4 linked regions of the Homo sapiens genome follow. The protein of the gene in region 2 interacts with the protein of the main gene of each other region in a pairwise test. Each region holds a gene or a part of one and is shown on either strand. Other genes may lie near its edges.

Region 1 (7,035 bases), on a different chromosome or scaffold from region 2:
ATGGGTGGGAGGATGTGGAACGTGATGGGTTCCAGGCTCACCTGTGGGGTTGTGCCGGACCACAAAGAGGAAGGGTCTGTCCATGATGATCTCCTCGGGGGCCATGCGGGCTGAGACTATGACAGCTGCAAGAGAAGGGACAATGTCTTAGAACAGAGGGATGCTGGCACTGGCACCACCCCCACCCCCGCCGTTTTTCTTAGAGACAGGGTCTCCCTCTGTCGCCCAGGTGGGAGTGCAGTGGCACCTTCATGGCTCACTGCAGCCTTGAACTCATGGGCTCAAGTGATCCTCCCACCTCAGTCTCCCAAGTAACTGGGGCTACAGGTGCATGCCACCATGCCTGGCTAATTTTTTTCTAATTTTTGTAGAGACACAGTCTCATTATATTGCCCAGGCTGGTCTCAAATTCCTGGGCTCAAGCGATCCTCCTGCCTCGGCCTCCCAAAGTGCTGGGATTACAGGTGTGAGCCACTAAGCCCAGCTGGAAGTTGTTTGTTTTCCTGAATATGAACCTTAAAAGTTTAGGGACATCCTCTGAGACCTGGTTTCCTCCAGGAGCTTGGTAGCAATGGATCAGCTCTTCCCTTACACACATTTATCTAAATCCTTTAAGGGCTTATTGATAAGCTCTTTCTTTTCTTTTCTTCTCTTTCTTTCTCTTTCTTTCTTTCTTTCTTTCTTTCTTTCTTTCTTTCTTTCTTTCTTTCTTTCTTTCTTTTCTCTCTCTCTCTCTTTCTTTCTTTCTTTTCTTCAGAGTCATGCTCTATTGCCCAGGCTGGAGTGCAGCAGCGTGATCTCGGCTCACTGCAACCTCTGCCTCCTGGATTCAAGTGATTCTCCTGCCTCAGCCTCCCAAGTAGCTGGGACTACAGGCACATGCCACCACGCCTGCCTAATTTTTGTATTTTTAGTAGAGATAGGGTTTTGCCATGTTGCCCAGGCTGGTCTCGAATTCCTGACCTCAAGTGATCCACCTGCCTTGGTCCCCCAAAGCGCTGGGATTACAGGTGGGAGCCACCATGCCCAGCCTGATAAGCATGTTTCTTAAGTTTACTTCCCACTGTGGGAACAACTTGGGTTTTTCTTTAGGAGGCCTTTTCACAGTCAGGGAACTTAGGAGCCATCAGGCGAGGAAACAGGGTTCCATGGTCCCAAGCCCGTTTTCCAGGCTGAGAAACAGGTGGGGAGTGGGTGATGGCTGAGCACAGACAGAGCTGCTCTGTGCCGAGAGGGCTGCGGGGTCCTTTCCGGGTCTGGGGACCAGTTATCCTGAAGGGCGATGGAGGCGACACCCGTGGAGCCTCACCTGAGCCAGACTCACCTGTGGATGAGGAGGCCACCGTGCCACTCTCGTTCACCTCGATCTTCACTTTCTGCAGCGCCTGCGCGACGTGGAGAGGCTCTTGGTCTGAAACAGATGTGGATACAGGATTAGATCAGCTGCCGCTCTCAAGGAGAGGTTCCTTTTTCCTCTTAGGGGCCCCCGCAGTCCACTGGGGTGAGAAAATGCAAAGGAAAGTCTTCTTACCTGAAAGACTCGTGAAGTCAGCCTGAAACTGTCTGAACATGTCGGTCATTCCCAGGTTCTCTAGGGGCTTCCTGAGGTCGACTTCAGTCTCCAGGGAGAACCTGCAGATAGCAGCAAGAGGCTGCTCAAGCCGGGGTCCCCTCTGGCTGGCAGCTCCCACCTTTCCCCATCCCCTACCAGGTGTCCCCCGAATCAAGTGGCCAGAATAGGGACGGAGGTGAAGGTTGGAGAGGGAGGCCTGGTTCGTTCGTTCTTTCTTTCCTTTCTTTTTCTTTCTTTCTTTCTTTCTTTCTTTCTTTCTTTCTTTCTTTCTTTCTTTCTTTCTTTCTTTCTCTCTCTCTCTTTCTTTCTCTCTCTCTTCTTTCCTTTCCTTTCCTTCCTTCCTTCCTATTTTTCTTTTTTTTTTTTTGAAACAGATTCTTGCTCTGTCCCCCAGGCTGGAGTGCAGTGGCGTGATCTCGGCTCACTGCAGCCTCCACCTCCCAGGTTCATGTGATTCTCTGGCCTCAGCCTCCGGAGTAGCTGGGATCATAGGCGCTCGCTACCACGGCTGGCTAATTTTTGTATTTTTAATAGAGACAGGGTTTCACCATGTTGGCCAGGCTGGTCTCAAACTCCTGACCTCAAGTGATCCGCCCGCCTTGGCCTCCCCAAATGCTGAGATTACAGGCATGAGCCACCACACCCAGCCGGCCTGGTTCTTCTTCTAAAGCTGTTTACAAAGTCCCCCCTTAGAGCTGAAAATCCTAATATTCATGAACATTCTTCTGCAATCTCCCCACCCCCTCCCACCTATGACTAATTACTTTCCTCAAATAAGACAGTAGTTTCAGCATAATTTTATTCAGCCTGGCTGGGGTGGGGGAAGCTAAGGGCAAATTCTCCTGCAAGGATGTTGGAACAAAAATCTGTTCTGCAGATTGTGTTTCTGAGAGCTAACCCTGAAGAGGACTCAAGCAGGGGGCCTTTGTGCACTCTCTGCTTCTCACCAGGGCACAACTAATTACCTCCATTTTTATGAGCCAGAGAGAGAGGAGAAAAAAAAAAAAGAGGAAGAGAGAGGATGCAAGTGAGAGCACGCACCAGCTAACCAACTAAATTCTCCTCTTTCCCCAAGCCTGGCATTATAGCATCCGGAAATTTGGGATGAGCGTGGTGGGAGGCTTCCCTATAATTCTGGAGTTCCCCAGCTCCAGCCTTCTCCTTCTGCAGAAAGATTTCAAAAAATCTCTTTGCTTCCTTCTGCAGAAGGATTTCGAAAAATCTGCTTTCTTGGAACCCCAGCTAGAAGCTGCGCTTTGAGCTGCTCCGTCCTTGGAAGTGATTTCTTTTGTTTGGATGTTGACTTGAAAGGGTTGGGGATGGAAGTGCTGATGGGGCGACCCTAAGTAGATGTGGACTGATTGGGCCCCCACCTCCCTCATTTCTCTGACTCTCCTTTTGGGGGCTTTTGCTGGGTATTCTGGGGATAGTCAATGTGGGGGTGTGGTCAGGAAGAGCTGTCCCCTGCCCTCCAGCAGAAACAGGGGGAGGGATGATTGCAAGACTCATAATCAAACCCAGGCCACAGTTTCCCATCAGCCTCCCACACATGCATGTCCTGCAAGCATCACAGATCTGGGAAATTCAACCTGGGGGCGGTGACTTTAGGGAGCCAGGAGAGAGGGGTTGGTAGGTCGGGGAGATAGCGGGGTGGCTTACTTGGGCAGAACCAGGAGGCGGGGCAGCCTGGTCATGTTGCCTTTCCAGTGGCTGATGAGCTGGGCACTCAGAATGTTGGTGAGGGCAGAGAGAGGCACCTCTTTTTCATAAGGGGCAGCAATGAACATGCTGAGGGTGTCCCCGTGGTAGGGCAGTTCCAGGATGTCGTAGTAATGGCCATCGGGCGTGGTGAACTCAGCTGTGAAGACGACAAGATGGTTCGTTGGAAATGGCTCCAGCTCTCGCTGATGGCAACCCAGCACTGGGTTTTCACCTAGTTCTCCTGGCTTCTCCACTATTTCTGGAAGCCAGGCTCTCTCTCGCTCTTGGCTTTTGGGTATCCCCTGTTCACTGCTCCCCTATTCAGTATTTTAATTTCTATTTCCCTTCTCTTCTGCCAATTCAGTATCTTCTAATTTCTCTCTCTCTGTGTGTGTGCATGTGTGTGTGTGTGTGTGTGTGTGTAAGAGACAGGGTCTCACTGTCACACAGACTGGAGCGCAGTGGTGCAATCATAGCTCACTGCAGCCTCCGAATCCGGTTCAAATGTTCCTCCCGCCTCAGCTTCTGTATTTTGTTTGTTTGTTTGTTTGTTTGTTTTGAGAAGGAGTCTCACTCTGTCGCCCAGGCTGGAGTGCAATGGCATGATCTCGGCTCACTGCAACCTCCCCCTCCCGGGTTCAATAGATTCTCCCACCTCAGCCTCCTGAGTAGCTGGAATTACAGGCACCTGCTATCATGCCCAGCTAATTTTTGTATTTTTATACAGATGGGGTTTCACCATGTTGGCCAGGCTGGTCTTGAACTCCTGACCTCAGGTCATCCACCCGCCTTGACCTCCCAAAGTGCTGGGAATACAGGCGTGAGCCACCGTGCCTGGCCTCACCTCAGCTTCTTGAGTAGACTACAGATGCATGTCACCAAGCCTGGCTAATTAAAAAAAATTTTTTTTTTGTAGAGGCAGGGTCTTGCTATGCTGCCCAGACTGGTATTCAACTTCTGGCCTCAAGCAATCCCCCTTCTCAGCCTCCCAAAGTGCTGGGATTATAGGCGTGAGTCGCCGCGCCAGGCCTTCTCTGTCTCTTTTGGCCTTCCTTCACTTCCATTTTCCCCACACCCAGCCACCAGTTCATCCCAGTCCTCATCCTTTTTTTTTTTTTTTTTTTTTTGAATGGAATTTCACTCTTTTGCCCAGGCTGGGGTGAAGTGGCTCAATTTCGTTCGGCTCACTGCAACCTCCACCTCCCGGGCTCAAGTGATTCTCCTGCCTCAGCCTCCCGAGTAGCTGGGATTACAGGCGCCTGCCACCACACCTGGCTAATTTTTGCATTTTTAGTAGAGACAGGGTTTCACCATGTTGGCCAGGCTGGTCTCAAACTCCTGACCTCAAACTCCTGATCCACCTGCCTTGGCCTCCCAAAGTGCTGGGATTACAGGCGTGAGCCACAGCACCTGGAGTCCTCATCCTCTTAACCTCAACTCCCCCAGCAGGATTTCTCATCCCCAGGTAATCACACTAGCAACACACGAAGATGAGACCCTGGAGTCAGGTGGACAAATGTGGCCCTGAGGGAATCTCTGGATTTCAGCTTCTTCATCCTTCATGGGATAAACCTCCTGTCTTCTGTTCCCATTATCCTGATGTCTCCTGCTTGGGAAATCTTTGTCAAAGCTGGAGTATATTCTAGGGTCTCTCCTCCCTTAAAGGGGAGCATTCCCTGTGGTCTTCCTCCCTCAGAGGGTGACATTTTGGGTATTCCTTGGGAGACCCCAGGAATGAGATGCAGTTGCTGTGGGCTGTGGGGAAGGGGCTCTTGGACTTACTATAGTTGAACTTGTTGGTCTGAGCCATCATGGGCACAGAGACAGTGCTGCCGTCTGATTTGTGGAAGAGGCGGCGGTGGGTGCTGGAGTCGGGGAAGGGAGTCTTCCACTGGCCGTTGAAGTAGAGGGCATTCACCAGCACCAGCCGTGTCAGCTGGTCCACGGCTCCTTTCCCAAGCAAGTTGCTGATCATACCTATGGGAAAATCAATGATCAGGAAGATCAGGAAGTTAGACGATTTTGTTGTTGTTGTTGTTGTTGTTTTGAGATGGAGTCTCACTCTATTGCCAGGCTGGAGTGCAGTGGCGCGATCTCGGCTCGCTGCAACCTCTGTCTCCGGGGTTCAAGCAATTCTCCTGCCTCAGCCTCCCGAATAGCTGGGATTACAGGCGCCTGCCACCATGCCTGGCTAATTTTTGTATTTTTAGTAGAGACGGGGTTTCACCATGTTGGTCAGGCTCGTCTCAAACTCCTGACCTTTTGATCCACCTGCCTTAGCCTCCCAAAGTGCTGGGATTACAGGTGTGAGCCACCATGCCCGGCTGAAGTTAGACAAAGTTTTTAAGCCTTTTAGATGTTTCCCGGAGTCCCCAGTCCTCAATTGGATGTATGTCAAAGGGCTGCAGTCAGGGGTTTAAATGAACCCGTCTAGTTCCTTTTTTTGGAGACAAAGTCTTGCTCTGTCACCCAGGCTGGAGTGCAGTGGCATGATCTCAGCTCACTGCAGCCTCTGCCTCCCGGGTTCAAGTGATTCTTTGAACCTCATCCTCCCGAGCAGCTGGGATTATAGGCATGCGCCAACACACCTGGCTAATTTTTTGTATTTTTGACAGAGACAGGGTTTCACCATGTTGGCCAGGCTGGTCTCGAACTCCTGTGCTCAGGCAATCTGCCCGCCTTGGCCTCTCAAAGTGCTAGGATTAGAGGCGTGAGCCACCGTGCCCAGCCTAAGATTTGGTTCTTAAAGCATCCAGCCCTTTGTCCATAGAGAAGAGAATGCTGAAAAGGAGCATTTTTTAGGATATGTGGATTTGGTTTTTGTTTGTTTTTTAGAGATGAGGTCTTGTTCTGTGACCCAGGCTGGAGTGTGGTGGTGCAAACATAGCTCACTGCAGCCTTGAACTGCTGGACTCAAGTGATCCTCCCACCTCAGCCTCCCAAGTAGCTGGGACTACAGGTGTGCACCACCATGCCCGGCTGGTTTTTAAATTTTTTGAAGAGATGAGGTCTTGTTATGTTGGCCAGGCTGGTCTCAAACTCCAGGCCTCAAGCCTTCCTCTCGCCTAGACCTCCCAAAGTGTTGGGCTGGGATTACAGGTGTGAACTACTGCACCCAACTGGGATATGTGGATTTATTTCCAAATTCCCTTTCTCTTGAGGCCCAGGAAATGGGTTTCCTTTCCCTGCCTGCTCACCTTTTGTGTGTGTCTTCACCCAGTCATTGATGATGAATCTGGCTCTCTCCACCTCTGAAAAGTCCACTTGCTTGACCGTGCTCCGGAACAGCCTGAAGAAGTGGGGCATGAAGCCCTGGACCAGCTTCAGATCCCGCTGGACGAAGATCGCGTCTGTGGTGCTGATCTCATCCTTGTTCCATGGCCCCATGAGCTCCTTGTACAGATGCCGGAGGGCGGGGGCCATGCCCTTGTCTGCACCGGGACAGAGAGGAGAGGACATGTGAGGCTTATGCTGAATTGAGGGTTCCCAGCCGAGCCCACTTCCCCCACAAGGGGCTCCACTCTGATGGATGGGGGCTACCGTGCTTTCCCAGGGCTCTCTGGAGGGAGATTTCATTCCAGGATGAAATCTCTTTTCTGTATCTCCTTCCTTTCTTCAAAAGTCTCAGATCCCAACCCTTTCTTTGGGCTAGAATATTTTTCTCTGTTCTTAAATTATGAACCCTAAATATTTTCTTCCTGTTTTTTTTTTTTTTTTTTTTTTGAGTTGGAGTTTTGCTCTTGTCTCCCAGGCTGGAGTGC
Region 2 (7,818 bases):
AGTGGACGCGCCCTGCGCGCCGCCGCTCGGCTTCTACCGCCGCAGGGGTGGGGCGCAGGGCCGGGGGTCGCCGAGCATTATTGGAACGAAAACGAAATAAAAGCGGCGTTAAGTGAAATAGCTAACTTTTTTATTAAATAAAAAGACTTAAATAAAAGGAACGGAAAAGAAGAAGAGTGGACCCAGCCTAAACGCAGGGTGCCCCGGGCCCCTGGCACTTCCCCCAGCGGCCGGGTCGGCTGCCCTTCCTCCAGCGGCCCCCGCGGGGGAAGCAGGTGGCCGGTTTCTAAAGAAAAAAGCCAAAACTTTTTTATTATTTACACGTTTGGGCAAAAGTACAAAGTATAATACAGGCGCCCGGCCCGGGGGGTGCGGGCGGGGGGCGGAGAAACGTAAGGCGCTTTCTTGTCAGGCCCGGGCCTGGGGCGGGACGGGGCGCGGGGCGGGGGCTCGGATTGTGCGGCCGCGCGGAGCTCGGGCCCTACCCCCTTCCGCGGCCCGCCAGTCTGTGGCCGCGCCCTGGGGCCTACTCGGGCTAGGCGGCCCCTTCCCCTCTCGGCGCCGGTTCCCCCGCAGCCCGCCTGGGGGGTCCGGGGCGCCCGGCTGGGTGGGGGCGGCGATCCGTGGCGACGGTGCGCGCTGGTGGGCTCACACCAGGGAGGTGACAGCGGGAACCTTGGAACTATCCTCCTCCCAGGGCTGCAGATTCTGCAGAGCAAAGAGTGACGAGTTGTGCAGACAGAGCGGGTCAGGCTGGATGGAGTCGTTGAGGCTCTTTTGGAAGGCGTCGTGTTGCAGCTGCAGCATGAGCCGGCTCGCCTGCTGCCGCTCCGCCTCCCGCTCCTCCGCCGTCTGCCGCCTGCACCGGGGGAGGGAGAGGGACAGTACCGTCATGCACCCGGCACCGCGGGGCCGCCGGCGGGGCCCCGGCCCTCCCGGGAGCCGAGGCCATCCGGGAGCCTCGAGGCGCAGAACCCGTCTGCCTCCCAGCCCGCGCTTTACGCCCGAGGCTCTTATATCCAGGGAGCCGGTTAGGATCATTTGTTTTTGTTGTGTGCCAGAGGGTCTCCAGGAGGGGACTCTGCCCGCCGCCCACCTGCACGCCCGGGTATTGTGGCTTCACCAACAATAAAGATTGTTCCTTTCGCCAGATAGCAAGGGCAGGGCCTATGTGTAACTGACTTGGCCCTGCGGGAACCGGGGTCGCTGGGGTCCGCGGGTGAGCAGGCTGGCTCTGCACCACCCGCACGACGCCCGGGGGCTGGGTCAGTCTCATCCAGTTCGCCCAGGGCCTGTCTTGAACCCCTTTCCAGACGCGATCGCTTCGCCGTTTACGGGTTGAATCAAAACAGAGATCGGATAAAAACGCGGCTGGAATGGAGACGCGGAGATGGGGGGAGAGGAAACCGGCGTCCACGAGGATTGTTGAAAATCCGAGAGGGCGGGCTGGAAGAAGGAGGAGAAGGAGAGTGCGAGAGGCCCGTGTGTGTGCGCGTGTGTGTGTGTGTGTGTGTGCCTGTGTGTTTGGGGCGGGGGTGGGTGAGAGGAAATCAAGTGAACGCAGGAGACCGTACAAAACACGGGGAGAGAGTTGGAGGGGCTCACGAAAGATGGGGATGGGGATGGAGGAGAAACCAAGGCGTGGGAGACCACGATGGAGAGAGAAGCACAGGCCAGCGAGAAGGGTGAAAGGAAGAGGTACAATCTGCGAAGGCGGGGTGGGGGTGTGTTTGGGGGAGGCAGAGGGGGGCGGGGGTAGTGGATAGCCTTAAAATAGGGCTAGTGCGAGGCTGCGGCTCGGGGCGGGACAGGTGAAGGGCAGGTGTAAGGTGGGCCGGGTCAGGCCTCTCTCACCGCCACTTGGTCCTCCGGTTTTGGAACCAGGTCTTGACCTGCGCGTCCGTCATTTTGAGGGACTTGGCGAGCGCCGCCCTCTCGGCAGAGGCCAGGTACTTCTGGCGATGGAAGCGCTTTTCCAGCTCGCAGATCTGCACCCGGGAAAAGGACGTGCGCGGCTTCTTACGCTTGGGCGGCGTCCGGTTCTGGTAGGGGTGGCCGATGCGCCGGGTCACGGTGAAGGGCGTGAGTGCGGCCGCCGCTGCGGAGACACAGGAGGGCCCCTGAAGCCCAGCCCGGCTCCGCCACCGTTCAGGCCCCATGCGGACCCCGTGGCGCCCCGTGGGACACGGAGAGCTCCGCTATTTCGCTGGTCGCGCGCGTTTCCAGAGACACCAAGCCGGTCGGGAGACCCCCTCGCCCCCTGTCCCTTCCCCCGGGCACGGGCTTATTTTCCTGCAACTCTCCGATTACCCTCCCCACCACGGCTGCCCGGGGCCCTGGGGCCGAGGCCTCCGCCGCGCTTGGGCCTCTGAAATGGTTTCCGGGAGTGGAGCGCACAGGGCGCGGCGCCTCTGGCCCCGAGAGGGCGGAGGCCTGGAGCCTGGTCGCCAGCTCTGCTCACCTGTGAAGCGGTCTTTCACGAAGCGGCGGCTGCTCTCCATCCAGGGGAAATTGAGACCGCCAAGGCTGGAGACCGTGGGCACGGAGGGCATGGCGGGTAGCGCGCTTGGCAGAGGCGGTGGCACGGCCCCGGGCAGCGGCCTGTGCGCCGGCACCCGGATCACGCCTGCGGGCGCTAGGCTCAGGTTCACACTGTAAGATCCCGCGTCCTCGAAGGGCGCGCCGAGGCCCGCAAAGGAGGCGGGCAGAGACGGGTATGTGGCGCCCGGACGGCCCCCGGGGGGCCCTCCCAGGTAGCTGGCGCCGTCGGGGCCCCGCGGGGCGGGTGCGCTGTCCTGGTCCGGGCTGTTAAGGATCTGGTCGATGCCGAAGCTGATGGGCTCGTGCGGGTGCGGGGTCTGCGCGCTGGCGGGCGCCTCCATCCTGGGCGGGCGGAAGGGCTGGGCTGGGCTGGGCGGGGAGGCGGCTGGGTCCCCGTTACGGCGCGGCCATGGAGCGCCCGGCGCCTCTCGTCGCACTGAAACTTTGCCAAGAGTGCGCGGGCCCGACAGGCTCTGTGTCATCTTTCTTGAACCGAACCTGGAGTTTCCGCTGCTAATTCCTCTCCTGCCGCAGCCATTGGCTGCGATCAACAAGCCTCTCTCCTCTCATTGGCTCCCGGCTTTCAATAAAGGCCTAATTCATGGAAATAGGAGCTTAGGGACTGTTCCAAGGTGACATCATTTTAACAAACGAACAATAGGTCAAATTTATTAGCAGGGATAATGGGCGGCGGATATTAGAGCCCGAACCACAGCCTCCCAAACCCGAAATCTAACGAAGCTGCAATTAGCAGACGCTCCCCGCTCCTCCGGGCCGGGCCGCTTCCCAGACACCGCGCTGGGTGGGTAGAGCGCTCCGCTTGTGAAATTGTCTTTTGCTGAGTGGGTTTTCGTTTTCTTCCAATTTTTTTTTTTTTTCATCTGAGCAAAAGCCAAACCAAATGCATCCTTTCAGGTACAATGGAGTTGCAACCCCGGGACGACCCGGCGGAATCCGCAGAAGCCCCTTGGACGCTACCGCCGCCGGAGGAACGAAAGGGGCGCACTACCCGGGGCAGGCTTCGCGCTGCCTGCGCGCGGGGCGAGGGGAGCACCGTAGCGTTCTCCGCGCCCCGGATGACGCCGACCCGCGTGGGGAGAATTCGCCCCCGCCCGGGTTTCGGCCGCGGCCTCGCGGCCACTTTGGAGACACTCCCTGGCTCCGGCCAGGCGGACCGAGGCGTGACTCGCAGGTGCCCACGCGTGCCAGCTGCGGCTGGGCTAGGGACGCGGGGTCGCCCGGTGGGGAGCGGGGACCTGACTCTCGTAATTCGTTGCAGGATGGAAGGGGGCTGTGGTCGCGCGTGGGAACCCGCTCGCGGCTCGGCGGGTCTAGGGACTTCGGGTTCCTGAATGTCAAAGGCGCGGGCAGCTCCTAGAGCAAATTGCGGGATTTCTTTGGGAAACGCGACTGGTGAGCCCTTCCCGGCTCCAGTCCACTTTGGGCGCTGGAACCACTCCCCGTTCTGCTCGCGCCTCAGTGACTGTCTACCCGGCCCAGGGCACCGTGGACAGGACCGCACACGAAGTAGTCACCTTCCGCTGCAGCTTTGGGGAGACAAGCGGAATCATTTTCTTCCAGCGAATTCTAAAATCGTTAGGTGCAAACTCTTTGAGTGTCGCACCCCTGGCCTGGGTTCTTCCTCCCGCTCCTTGTGGTGTGGACAGTGGTGAGAGCTCGGATGTGCTGTTGTTGGCCAGAAGTGTGTTCAAATTTGGACTGGCCATTTCCTCGCTGAGTGACCTTGAGAAATTGACTCTATATATTTAGATTTCGGTTTTCTCGTTTGCAAAAAAGGAAAATAATGCATGCATGCGGGTTGTTCGTGAGCCGCGAGTGAGATATTGAGGGAGCGCAGAGCACTGGGCCTGGCACGTAGTAGGCACTGGGCAGCGTGGCTCACCTCCCACTCTATCCCCCCAGAGTAATGGCTGATGTATTATTGTTGTGACTCTTGTTTATTTTGTTGGCAGTTTAATTTTATTTGCAGGGGCTCAGTACGTTGGAGAGAAAGGTGTATTTGTCTACCAGTAGGGTCAGTTTCAGAGGACGGGGAAAGACAGGAGGTGCAGGTTGGGGATTCTTTCTCTCTTCTCCCAACAATCCAAAGGCGTCAGGATTTGCAGGGCCTCCAGGCCTGGGTCTGGAGTTAGGTCACTTGCCCGCTGTGTGACCTTGGGCAAATTCCTGGCCCTTGCTAAGCCTTCCTGGTGGGTGTGGAGAGGGAGGCCCAACAGTGAGGAGTGAGAGCTGCAGGATGTCTGGGGTCTGGGCAAGTGCTCCCTCACTCCCTTCCAGCGACAACGACCCTCAGATGGGGTAGATGCCATTGCCCTGGCTCCAGGGGGCCTCCTGCTTCTAATTCAGGCTCTGCCACTGGCAGTGTGGGTCCCTAACCGCCCCTCCCAGAACCGCATTTTCCTTATTTGTAAAACAAAAAGGGCACCAGCTACCCCCAGGGTGGCTGTGAGAACAAAATGAGATAACATCTGTGGCAGTGCCTGTGTGAAACTCTGGCGGTTATATCATAATAACTTTAATGACAACTATAAAGCTACTGTAGCTGAGACCCTAGCCTGTGCCAGGCAGGGAGGTGGACACTTATTTATTCTTCACAATGACCCTGTGAGGAAAGGGCTGTTAGTGGCCCCAATTTCTCACTAATGAGGGAATTGAGGCTTTGAGAGTTCAAGGGAAGCACAGCTCCCCACTTGGGGGCTGGAGTTGGCACCTCACCAGCTCCACTTCCCTTCTGGCTTCCAGTGCCCGGGACTCAGGGCTGCCCTTGTCACTTCAGACACTGTTAAATCAGGACAACAAGGCCCACCGCACAGAGGTTTGTGGCACAGAATTAAGGCGTGGGTGGCACAGCGCTGCTCCCAGCTTGTGTGCTTAAGAATGGGATTCCCACCTCAGTTTACCAGCTGTGGACTCAGGGAATTATTCATCCTCTTTATGCCTCAGTTTTCTCATCTGGTAAATAAACCTCATGGGATTAAATAAGCGCCCCAGGTAAAGCCTGGCACGGGTCAGGGCTCTGCTTCACTGCTTGGCTTCCGGCTTCCTGAGATCCACGGTCCCTCATCGTCCAGCCCTGTCATACAGATGAAGGAGCTTTGGGCCACTAATTATAAGCCTCCTTTCACTTCCTATCCAGATAGCTCTTAGGCAGCTCAGGAATGGGGGGAACTTGGTTAGTCCCTAGGACAGTGGTTCTCAGAGTGTGTTTCCAGAGCAGCAGCATCAGCATCACTGGAGAATTTGTTAGAAATGCAAATTATTGGACCCTCGCCAGACCTACGGCATCAGACACTCTGGGGTAGGACTCGGCAGTCTGTGCTTAACAAGCCCTCCAGGTGATTCTGATGCCTGCTCAACTCTGGAAGCCAGTGCCCAGAATATGGTCCATTCCATCTGAGTTTTCAAATGTGTTGTTGTAACATTGTGGGAAGATTCTCTCAGAATTTGCAACTCTCATACGAATCTGTACTAATGCCTTCCACTTCTCATTCCCCGTGTCGCTCATTCATGCCTTCTCCTGATCATACTTGCCAAAGGTTTGTTATTTTGTTGGTTTTTAAAAAAGCCTTTGATGTCATTATCCCCTTTTAAGATGCCACCTCTTTCGTGAATGTTGCGGTTTAAAAAAAGATTTATTCCTTCTTTGCTGAGTTGAAAATTTAATTTGTCAATTTTCTTTCTTTTTAAATAAATGCACTCAAGGGCATACGTTTTCCTCTAAGCACTGTTTTGGCCAGGTATGTTCTGATATGTATTTGGTGTTCCTGAGGTTGTAATTTCTTGCTGCCCTTGTAATTTACCTGCTGTCACTTGATCAGTGAGGCATACACACTGAAAGAGATTAGGAAATGAGAATTGTAAGAACTGGGGATGAGGATTCCCGGGGCTAGAGAGACTTTCAGAATGGAGCACATCCTCTCCTCTTCCCCAAGAAGAAGCTGGAAGAAAGGGGTACAGCTGGTGGAGGCTTTGCCGAGAGTCATCTAGAAGAGGGTGGGGCTTCAGGGATGACAGGCAAGATGCTGGGATTTCCAGCTGGCCCATGAGCCCAGCTGTGGGAGGCCAGGTTCCTCCAGGATCATTCTGCCATTGACTTCCTGAGGGAAATGAGACTCCATTTCCCTGTCTGTGAAATGGGGTAGAGACTGAATCAGGACTTTAAATGTATTTGGGTCAGCTACCCTATTTGAAACACGGATGAAAATATTGTGGTCTGCTTCCATAGAAAAAGACAGAAACACATAATTTGGCACACACACCATGTCACAGGTTGCTGACCTGCCATGCTGTTCTTGGCTTACACACCCTAGTTAGGAGTCCCTAGGGGCCCTTCCAGTTTTCCTGATGGGAGGCTCTAAAGACACTTGCCGAAATTTATTCGCCCATTCATTTATTTATTCAACGAATATTTACTGAGCACCTACTCACATTTCCTGGACCATTCCCCAGTGCAGGGGCTTGCTTTCCCCATCTAACAGTGGGCACAAAGCAGTCTGAGCTCTTCATCACTGCTTCCCCCAGTGGGCAGGACCTAGGGAAGAACCTTCCTGAGGAGGTCTGATCAGTCTCAAGACTCTGCCAGCCAGTGGAAGGAAAAGGCCTTCAGATGTCGGCTGTTGCTTGGGACCCCCCACTGCAGGTCACGAGGCTTCAAGGACAGTTGACTTAGGGAAACAGTCTCTTGTCCAAGGGCATGTAGTAGACAGGGGTGGAGCTGGGATTTGAACCCAGGACTGTTTAGACTACAAAGCCCACATATTCCCCTTTACCTCACACCCCTCTTTGGGGGTAGGTGGTAAAGACTCTTAAGTCACAGGACTGAGTGGGGAGGGGAAGCAGTGCAGGGTCCGGGTGAATGAGCCCAAGAGTGGCGGTGAGGGCTGGCCATAGTGGGGCTCACTTGTCTCCCCTACTGGCTTGGGAGTTCCTTTTGGGCAAAATGCTGTTAGTGGCATTTGATCCCATGTCCCAGGGCTGGGTCCAGGGCGTGGAGGACTGGAGGACATTATCAAGAGTTTGTGGTATTAAACTCAATAGCACAAAGCAAGGTCAGGCAAAGGGATAAGAAAAAGGGGTCAGAATTGGGCGCAGGCATTTGCGTGCACTCAGTTCGTCATTCACCTCCCCCAGCCCTGCTTATGGCTGGTTCCTTGCATCCTTTACAACCCAGGCCAGCCCTCACCTCTCTGCCCATCCTCCAGAGCAGCACCCTCACCCCATCATCCTCTCTACCCATTGATTTTCGTCATTCCCCTC
Region 3 (3,291 bases), on a different chromosome or scaffold from region 2:
TTTACATGGATTTGGGTGCCCTCTAAGGACACCATCTTCTCTCCCCTCCAAGAGGGTCAGGCCACAGGACATCCATGTTCTTGGCCTCCCATGGGAGAGGGTCTCTCGCCAGAGGAAGGGAAAGCCAAGTGGCCACAGAGTTCCAGCCTGTCCCTGTGACAGCCCCTGCCTCTGGCCAGACATCCACCCACCCTTGCTAAGTCAGCCTGCTCTGGGGCTACTAGGCCCAGTCCTTGCTGTCTGTCGGAGACAGACCATGAAGTGCAGTGTGTGGAGGGCTGGGACATAGCATACCGAATTACCCCAGGGAGCTTGGAAAACATCTCTTCCCACTCTCTGTTAGGCCCACGGCTTCCTCTACTGGAGGAGACGGCATGTGAGGATGGAACTCGGTCATTCCTCTGTCACCACCGATGTGAACAGTCTGGAATCCTGCACACAGGAGACTGACGATCCCTGAGCAACCTTTAGTAGCTCCTACCATTGGGCATTTTCTTGGTACAGATCACAAATAAGAGACATCATAGAAAATGTTATTCTTTTATTATTTCAAGGAGGTAATACATAGCCCAATATGGCAAAGCAAAAGGGAATTAGAGGCAGCAAATGGCCAGGTTTTTCTAAGCGCCTCATGCTGCATCTCTGAGCTCCTGTCTGCCCGCAGCCCACAGCTGCTTACATGAAGGCCAGGTCAGTAGACAGATGGCCCAACTTGATACTCCACTGACTGAGAAAGGGCTCAATGTGCAGCACAGCAGAGGCACTGCCAGGACCCAGCACGCTGGGCGGCACCCCACGCTGCCACCACCAGCTACAGAGGCTAGTGCCTTAGTAGCAGCCAGTGTGTCTAGCACTTGATTTTATTCCTGTGAGCCTAGAGTGGGCAGGACGTGAATAAATCCTGAGTCATAAGTTAAGGTGAAAGACTTAGTAGTGTTAATACTCTTGGTGAGAAAAGACAACACAGTCTTGGAGGAGAGTGGGCTTGGAGTCTGGTGGAAGAAAGATAGAAACCCCCAGAAGGGCCTCGGCCTGCAGGCACTGCCTTGAGGCCATCAGAGGGGGTTTTCACGGTACATGATAGGGAGGAGTGAGGCAGGTGGGCACTGGAGGGCTGTTTCCTCTGGCACAGTTGAACTAGAGGGTCACTTTCCACTCATAATTGGTTTCCTAGGTCTAAGTCACCACACCTGGGGCTGAAGCAAGTCTTGCCTGTGCACCAAGCGTGGCCTTGGACCCTGGAGAGATGCAAGGCTCAGTTCTCCAGTGTTGAAGTGGAAGGACTCCCAACTGAAGGAGATCTTTCTCTCCCCACCTCCAGCTCTTTTCCCTTACAAATGACCAGGGTGCAAGTCGAGAGGCAGAGGCACCTCCTGGTGCAACTCCACCACAGTCTTACAGAGAACTCATCTTGGTGGGACCCAAAGCCCAGCCTTGGCATGAAGCAGACTTATTCCACCCATCGGAGGGCACCCAGTCTGGTGACTGAATGGTGGCGTGCAAGTGGGAGTCAGCAGTGGCTCTGGATGCCGTAATACTCAGATGCCATTCATCTCTGTGTGATCGTCCTGGCTGGAGAGCTGGTGAGGAGGGACTGCTTCCTCCTGGCATGCACTGTTCACCAACCACACCACGTGGGCTGATAGATTTTTGGTTTGACAGGTGTGGAAAGAATTTTTAAAACCAGCCACTGTGTTCTCCAAACCCAGAGCCATTGGTTTTGTTTGACAAGAAAGTACCAAGAGAACCACAGCTCCACTGAGGCTAAGGCTTGTGTAGCACAGAATGCAGTATGTATTGAAACGTATAAACCTTGTCTGACTGGGGAGATGGGTGAGCAAAGAGCTGCCGGGACCCAGGTCCTCTAGTCGGTTGCAGGCTCTGCCGATGTCTCATCCTTAAGCTCCTCAAAACCTGGGACTGGCTTCTGTAGAAAGTATGTAGTGGCCTGGATCACCTTGTCTGGTCCAATGTTGTACACTGGGTGAGTGGGCTGCTGCAAAGAGAAGAAAAGGTGCCAGTTAATCACCCCGGTGGTCCTTGAAAACATAACACATCCTTTGCTCCATGAAAGGCACTTCTAAGAATTTAGTATAAGGAATCAGAGATACACACAAAGCCCAAAGGTTCAAAAATGGTGTATTTGCTAAAACTATCTAGTACATGGGACACAGGTTAATATACAGCCATTATAAACACGCATTTAAATATTTAACGATACAGGCAAATACTTACAACATATTATGTGAGAAAACAGTATGTACAATACTATCTCAAACTGTTTTTTTTTTTTTTTTTTTTTTTTTGAGAGAGTCTTGCTCTGTTGCCCAGGCTGGAGTGCATTGACACGATCTTAGCTCACTGCAACCTCTGCCTCCTGTGTTCAAGCAATTCTCCTGCCTCAGCCTCCTGAGTAGCTGGGATTACAGGTGTGAGCCACCACGCCTGGGTAATTTTTGTATTTTTTTTTTTTTTTTTTGAGACGGAGTCTCTCGCTCTGTCGCCCAGGCTGGAGTGCAGTGGCGGGATCTCGGCTCACTGCAAGCTCCGCCTCCCGGGTTCACGCCATTCTCCTGCCTCAGCCTCCCAAGTAGCTGGGACTACAGGCGCCCGCCACTACGCCCGGCTAATTTTTTGTATTTTTAGTAGAGACGGGGTTTCACCGTTTTAGCCGGGATGGTCTCGATCTCCTGACCTCGTGATCCGCCCGCCTCGGCCTCCCAAAGTGCTGGGATTATTTTTGTATTTTTAGTAGAGACAGGGTTTCACCATGTTGGTCCGGCTGGTCTCGAACTCCTGACCTCAGGTGATCCACCCGCCTCGGCCTCCCAAAGTGCTGGGGTTACAGGTGTGAGCCACCACACCTGGTCTCAAACTTTTTAAAAAGTGTATTTGTACCTGTGATGTATATAAATAGCAAAAATTGTACCCATACCAAAATATTAATAGTGATATGATTGTTTTTCATTTTCTTTTTTATATTTTATGTATCCCAATTATTAAAACAATAAACATGTATTTACATTTATAATCAAGAAAAAGGGGGCCGGACGCGGTGGCTCATGCCTGTAATCCCAGCATTTTGGGAGGCCGAGGTGGATGGATCACCCGAGGTCAGGAGTTCAAGACCAGCCTGGCCAAGATGGTGAAACCCCGTCTCTACAAAAATACAAAAATTAGCCGAGCATGATGGTGAGTGTCTGTAATCCCAGCTAGTTGGGAGGCTGAAGCAGGAGAATTGCTTGAACCCGGGAGGCGGAGGTTGCAGTGAGCCAAGATTGTGCCACTGCA
Region 4 (7,108 bases), on a different chromosome or scaffold from region 2:
CTGTTCTAAGAACTTAAAATCAGCAAATGCAGTGTATAAAAATAAATGAAATAGCTGTGGGAATGGAGGTGTAAAAGGCACACAATTTGCTGCTATTGCTATCTCCTCTGTTTGCATAATAATATTTGGATACTAATCTCGACATTGCGGCTGTGTTCCTTTTTGCTTTTGTCTTCTTGCATTCCTTATGTGTCCCTGTCTTCCCTGCTCCCTTGGCCAGGAGCCTATGTCTGAGTCCTGACAGTCACAGGTGCTTCCCAAGTATATTGGAATGGAGTGGCCCTGTGGTGACAGAGAATGCTCCCTGTGTATATTAAGGCACCTGGAAAATTTGTCCCTTAGGGATCTGGGAGCTCTAGGCATGCTGGCCTCGATGTTCTCACCTCTATTTCCTCTCTGCTTTCCCAGATTCCTGCATGGGTCCTGAAGGGATCACCTGGTGGTACAGGTTAATTGTCCATGTAGTGCCTGGATGGACTTTAGTTTGCTTAAAAAAGTAAGGCCTGGAGAATCAAGGTATAATATAAAGAGAGGCTGTTATGAGGCCTTCACAGGAGGTATCTCTACTAGGAAGCTCATGAACTAGCATTTTCACAAAAAAGAAAGAAGAAGTGGGGGAGGGAGGTGTTGGAGGATGAGAAAGAGGTCTCAGGGCTAAGAGACAGGTATTAATGGCCTAGGGAGCTGTGTTAGGGGTGAAAAAGGAAGTGACAAAAAGATTAAGATGGAGAGGGATGAATGAGACCAGAGTGAGGCAGGACAAGTAAGGTGCTGAGCAGAAGGTGGTGATGAGAAGCAGGGGAGGCAGAGGGTCAGAAGCCAGGAGAGAGGCCAGATTGAAGAAAAGCACCCAGAGCCGACCTCCTAACACTTGTGGTAGCATCCCTGCCCATCCTCCAAAAGCCTCAGGCTTGGACGGGGCATTCAGTGGCCATGGTTCCATTTCAAAACAGTCATCAAGCCCAGCGCTTTTATCTTCTTGCTGAGATATCCTGTCTCTGCTCCTCTGCACAGCCCCCTCTGTCTCCCAAAATCAGGCCTGTTCTTGCACCTGGATTCTTACTGTACCACCTATCAAATCTCCTGGCTTCCCTCCTAGCCTCCTGCAGGCCATTCTGCACATTAGAATCACCTGAAGCGGGGTGGGGGGGTTGATTCTAATTAATTCAGATGCTCAGATGGTACCCCAGACCAATAAAATCAATGTTTGGGGGGGTGGGGATCAGGCATCAGTAATTTTAAAAGATCCTCAGGTGACTTCAATGCACAGTAACGTTGGGGAGCTACTGAGCCTAAGGCATTTTCCTAAAGCACCAATTTTATCCCTTTCCTGTTGAAATGGGCTCAGAGGTTCAGTTGCTGTTGCACAACTGAACAACAGGTAGTTGAGAGAGGAGTGTGGACACAATTTTCCATGTTTTAGGATTTCTAGACTTGCATCGAGAATCCCTGGATTTCCTATTTATGCAAACACTATGAGAGGGTCATGGGTGGAGAGCTATGTTTGTTAAGCATCTACTAAATGTTTAATTGCAAGATGGATAATATCTTTCCCCTGAATTCACCAAACCTTTGCTCACAGAATTGCTTTTCCAGGCTTGAAAGCCTTCAAACTGGCCTTCCATTTTTCTGCCTCTTCTAATCCTGTCATCTTATGGTGCTGTCATCTTTCCGCTTCTAAGAAGTGTGCTCTTACTACTTCAGACTCCCCTCATGTGTGACATAAAAAGACTGGTTTGGTAGAGCAGGTGAGGATAATGTAGGACCTGATATGAAGGGTTAGCACTCCAAATGAATAATTGAGACCCTAAGTACTATGACTTCTGGATGGGAAAAAGAAGGTAGTAGGAGTTCATGGATGTATGGGGTATTTATATGGTCCGCAGGGTCAAAAGTGCCCCATAGAAGTTCTTTCTTTTCCATTAAAAGTTACAGGTATTAAGAGTTCATAGGAAGAGAAAGAGCAATTTATATTTTTATATCACATACAGATTACAAAGCACATACATTAATCCTTATATCTACAATATCATGGGGGGGGTATTGTCTCCGTTTTGCAATACAGCATTTTAAAGTTAAGATCCCAAATTTTAGGTTCCAATCCTGACTCTGTATCTTTCCAGCTGTGTGATCCTGGGGCTACTTAACTTCTCAAAGGATCAGTTTCCTCATGGAAACAGTGGACTTAGGGTGAGGGGTTAGCTGGGGTCATGCATGAAGTGCCTGGCAAGTTCCTTAAGCACTAAGTATTAGCTATTACTGTTTTGTACAGATGAGAGAGTTGGGGTTCAGAAGAGTGAAGTGCTCATTTACATAGTTAATGGCGCTTAGATTTGGAGCTCATGGTCTACATACATAGTGACCATTTAGGATACAATTAATTGCTACAAAATTCTTGGCTCCTCCTTTTAGATAAAGAAATGAACTCAGAGGCTCACTGGCCTGCCCTGTAGACTTCACAGCTGGCAAGTGGTCCCTAGTTTTCATGACCCAATGCGGCCCCACATCTGGTGCCTGGCACTTACGAGGTATGGATGCTCCTGAGGCGGCCCTTGTGGAAAGTGATGATGGTATTGCGGCAGCAGCGGCTCTCATAGTAGTAGCAGTTGAGATTGCTGCTGGCTGTGCAGCAGCACTTACAGTTGGGATCATTGGCCCAAGAGCAGCAACACCAATGGCAGTTGGGGCTCTCAGAACAGGTGCAGTGGCAGAACTGGCAGTTCCGCTCATCTTTGTAAGGGCAGGGGAAGCAGGTGCAGTTCCGCTCTGAGGTGAAGATGAACTTGCAGCACAGACAGGAGCATAACTGAGGACAACATCTCTGCCATGTACAACATGGACAGCAAACGCACATAGCAGTTTCCATGGTGCCTACATGATTACCACCGGCCTCCCAGGACTCTTGATGCCTCCTCTACCAGAATACTGCTATCAGTTCTCCAGTGGAGGAGTCCTTCCTCCCATTCCTGAGGCCGTCAGCTTGAAAGTTGCAAGAAGTTGGCTGTTATGAGGACTTCACAGCTGGTGTCCCTACCAGGAAGCTCATAGGCTGGCATTTACATATATCAGTCTGAGGGTATTTGCTTATGTCACAATCCCTGTCTCTCTACCATGCTAGGTAGATAGCAGGATGCGGCCTTGTGGGTGGTAGCTGGTATGTTGGTGGAAACTCCATGCTTCCATGGAACCAGCTGTAGAGGAGTGGTGATGCAATGAGCATCCTGGAAGTTTAGTTGTCATTTGTCACCTTTTGGATAATGGAGTAGATTTCTGAAGCTATTTCTCCTTGTTTGGTGTTCTGCCTGCAATTTGGACAAGTGGACTTCAGATTATGTCTTCGTAGACTGAAAGGCTTGGGTATGGTTAATTAGAAAAGTAGATTCACATGGTTTTCCACATGTTAGAGGAATTGATAGAATTCTATTTGAACAAAGGACAGTGTTTACAAATAATAGCAATGCCATATTTAAAGAGATATCACCATTCAGAGAAAGAGTTAAAGAAAAAAATATATAGGTTCACTTAGGAACTTCTTTCAGTAGTAATTGATTTTATCAATCAATGCATAGTCGCTGCTCATTTTCATGAAGCTTTATACTTAAGTCACTCTGAATATTTCTTGGGTTTTTTGTAGCTGCATGGTGTTTGGGTGAGGTTCAAGCTTTCTGTCTTTTCCCCATCCTACCCCCACTCCAAAAAGAGGCTGGAACTCTACATTAAATCTTTAACTGTTCTGCTAGTATATGCTCAGTATTCCTAGAAAAAAGACCCTATATTTTAGGGAAGAATTTCACCTTCCCATTTAAGCAGCTTGCAAAGATTAAAAGAACAGAAATTTCATGGTCATAGTACATTATAGTATGAATACTGTCTTGTTTTTAGAAAAAGAAGCAGAAGTGAGAGCTGAGTTTAGCTGCAGGAATTTACTGCATAATTTAGTATCTCCCCCTATGGTTATCACCTTTATAATAGAGAAAATCACTGAGTGCCAACTATGCCAGCCACACATTGATATTAGATTTCTACAAGTGAAAATCCCGGCTCTTAGGGTATGTCCTTTATCTTTTTTTAAGGCAAACTGCTAAATTTCTTACTCAAATAAATGTGCCAGTTAATACCAGCAAGGAACATACAACATTCAAAAAAGTGAAACTCCTTTTCCTCACGTTTGCCAAAACTCAGTTTTATCAATCTCTCTCTCCATCCTCCAGGCACATAGGTTAGAGTTTCATTCCCAGATTTATGATACATTTTCACTATTGGTTTCTATAAGGTCTTATTAAAAACTTATTAATATGTAATTCACTTACCATTAAAGTCACCATTTTAGAGTAAACAATTAAATGGTTTTCAGTATATTCATAAAATTGTGCAACTCTCACCATTATCTAATTCCAAAATATTTTCATCACCCCCGTAAAACACTCATTAGCAGTCTCTCCCTGTTCCTCCTTTCCCTCAGCCCTTAGCAGTTACTCTACTTTTCTGTATTTATGGATTTGTCTATTCTGGAGATTTCATATAAATGCTATCATATAATGTGTGGCTTTTGTGTCTGGCTTTAATTTAGTATAATGTTTTCAAGGTTTATCTGTGTTATAGCATGTATCAGTATTTTTTTATGGCTGAATAATTTCACATGGATATACCACATTGTATTCATTGTCAGTTAATGGACATTTAGATTGTTTTCACGTTTTAGCTGTTAAATGTTTAAATGTTTCTGTGAGCATTTGTGTATACATTTTTTTTGTGTGAGCATTTTTGTAGAAATATGTTTCCAGTTCTTTTGGGTAGGTTCCTAGGTGTGGGATCATATGGTAACCCTATGTTTAACTTTTTGAGGAAATGCCAAGCTGTTTTTCAAAGTGACTGCACAATTTTACATTCCCACCAGCAATGTATGAGAATTACCATTTCTCCACATCGTTTTCCAAACTTCTTGTCTTTTTTTTCTTCTGATTATAGCTATTATAGTAGGTATAAAGTAGGATCTCTTTGTGATTTACATTTGGATTTCCCTGATGGCTAGTGATGTTGAGAATCTTTTCATGTCCTTATAGGACATTTGTATGCCTTCTTTAGAGAAATGTCTATTTAAATCTTTTGCCCATTTAAAAATGGAGTTAATATCTTTTTATTGTTGAGTTGTCAGAGCTCTTTGTATTAGCTAGATACTAGACCCTAACCAGATATGATTTGCATCTATTTTCTCCATTCTATGGTTGTCTTTACATTTTTAAATGGTGTCCTTTGAAGCACAAAAGGTTTTAATTTTGATGAAGTCAAATTTATCTCTATTTTTTTTGTAGCTTGCCCATTTGGTGTCATTTAAGAAACCACTGCCCAATCCAAGGCCATGAAGATTTACACCTATGTAATCCTATAATAAATAGCTTTATAGTTTGAGCTCTTACACTGAGGTATTTGAATTATTTTGAATTGTTTTTGTATTTGGTGGGAGTTAGGGGCCCAATTTCATTCTGTTGCATGTGAATATCCAATTGCCATAGCAACATTTGTTGAAAAGACTATTGTTTCCCATTGAGTAGTCTTGAAACCCTTGTTGAAAATCAACTCACCATAGATATATGATTTATTACTGGACTCTGAATGCTATTTCTTTGATCTATATGTCTATCCTTGTGCTAGCCACACCATCTTGATTACTGCAGCTGTGTAGTATGTTTTGAAATTGGAAAGTGTGAGTACTCCACTTTTGTTTCTGTTTTAACATTATCTTGTATTTTCATATAAATTTTAGGATCAGCACTACTACTTTTTGTGCAAAAGTCCACTAGAATTTTGATAGCTATTGCATTAAGTCTGTGGATAAATTTGGGGAGAATTGCCATGTTAAGTTTCCTGATCCACGAACACAGAATATTTCACTATTTATTTAGGTCACCTTTAATTTCTTTCAACAATATTTTGTAGTTTCCATTGTACAGGTCTTGCACTTATATGGTTAAATTTATTCCTAAGCATTTCATTCTTTTGATGCTACTGTAAATAAAATTGATTTTCTTTATATTTGGATTGTTCATTGTTAGTGTGTAGAAATACAACTGATTTTTAATAGGGCCATTTATATTGACTTCTGTGTATATCTTGCAACCTTGCTGAAATCACTATTAGCTCTATTTTTAAAATTTATTTTAAAGGGTTTATATATATAACTTTGTGTTATCTGTGAATAAAGATATTTTCAGTTTTTCCTTTCTAATTTAGATGGCCCTTTTTTATTTTCCTTGCCTAATTTCCCTGGTTAGATCTTCAAGTACAATGTTAAATAGAATTGGCAAGAGTGGACATCCTTGTGTTGTTCCTAATCTTAAGGGAAAAAATTTTAGTTTTTCAACATTAACTATGGCATTCGCTGTCGGTTATTTACAGATGTCCTTTTATCAGATTCAGTTGTATTATTTGATTTTCATATGCTGAGTCAATTTAATAATCAAATTAATTATTTGATTTTCATATGTTGAGTCAATTTTCTGTTCCTGACATAAATCCCATTTCATAATGATGTAATTTTATATTTTGTTGGATTTGGATTGCTAGTATTCTGTTGAGAAATTTTTTAACAGACTAAGACAATATGATTTATTATTCTGAAGTAAATATACGGTTTATAAATATACAGGAACCTGTGATTCCCATCAAGTTCCTGGTAGGAACAAAATGGCACTCAAATTAATTTGTAGAAAAATTGGTTTCTCTTAAATGCAAATCAAAACCACAATGAGATACCATCTCTCACCAGTTAGAATGGTGATCATTAAAAAGTCAGGAAACAACAGGTGCTGGAGAGGATGTGGAGAAATAGGAACACTTTTACACTGTTGGTGGGACTGTAAACTAGTTCAACCATTGTGGAAGTCAGTGTGGTGATTCCTCAGGGATCTAGAACTAGGAATACCATTTGACCCAGCAATCCCATTACTGGGTATATACCCAAAGGATTATAAATCATGCTGCTATAAAGACACATGTGCACATATATTTACTGTGGCACTATTCACAATAGCAAAGACTTGGAACCAAGCCAAATGTCCAACAATGATAGACTGGATTAAGAAAATGTGGCACATATACATCATGGAAT

What was found.
Region 1: the proteins of TLX3 (region 2) and SERPINE1 interact in binary tests that used the Homo sapiens proteins (3 or more experiments, as listed by UniProt).
Region 3: the proteins of TLX3 (region 2) and FNTB interact in binary tests that used the Homo sapiens proteins (3 or more experiments, as listed by UniProt).
Region 4: the proteins of TLX3 (region 2) and TRIM42 interact in binary tests that used the Homo sapiens proteins (3 or more experiments, as listed by UniProt).

Annotation. Positions count from the first base shown.
Region 1 is NC_000007.14:101,130,091-101,137,125, reverse strand, and holds part of SERPINE1 (plasminogen activator inhibitor 1 isoform 2 precursor), read right to left. Parts: intron 6,706-7,035; coding exon 6,472-6,705; intron 5,252-6,471; coding exon 5,057-5,251; intron 3,432-5,056; coding exon 3,233-3,431; intron 1,633-3,232; coding exon 1,532-1,632; intron 1,412-1,531; coding exon 1,325-1,411; coding exon of another isoform or gene 1,310-1,324; intron 147-1,309; coding exon of another isoform or gene 126-146; coding exon 42-125; intron 1-41. UniProt on the Homo sapiens protein: Serine protease inhibitor. Inhibits TMPRSS7. Is a primary inhibitor of tissue-type plasminogen activator (PLAT) and urokinase-type plasminogen activator (PLAU).
Region 2 is NC_000005.10:171,304,430-171,312,247, reverse strand, and holds TLX3 (T-cell leukemia homeobox protein 3), read right to left. Parts: upstream 3,001-7,818; 5' UTR 2,883-3,000; coding exon 2,462-2,882; intron 2,099-2,461; coding exon 1,855-2,098; intron 860-1,854; coding exon 649-859; 3' UTR 109-648; downstream 1-108.
Region 3 is NC_000014.9:65,059,886-65,063,176, reverse strand, and holds the end of FNTB (protein farnesyltransferase subunit beta), read right to left. Parts: intron 1,997-3,291; coding exon 1,865-1,996; 3' UTR 527-1,864; downstream 1-526. Other genes in the region: CHURC1-FNTB protein, read right to left, coding at 1,865-1,996. UniProt on the Homo sapiens protein: Essential subunit of the farnesyltransferase complex. Catalyzes the transfer of a farnesyl moiety from farnesyl diphosphate to a cysteine at the fourth position from the C-terminus of several proteins having the C-terminal sequence Cys-aliphatic-aliphatic-X.
Region 4 is NC_000003.12:140,673,988-140,681,095, reverse strand, and holds the start of TRIM42 (tripartite motif-containing protein 42), read right to left. Parts: upstream 3,033-7,108; 5' UTR 2,867-3,032; coding exon 2,526-2,866; intron 1-2,525.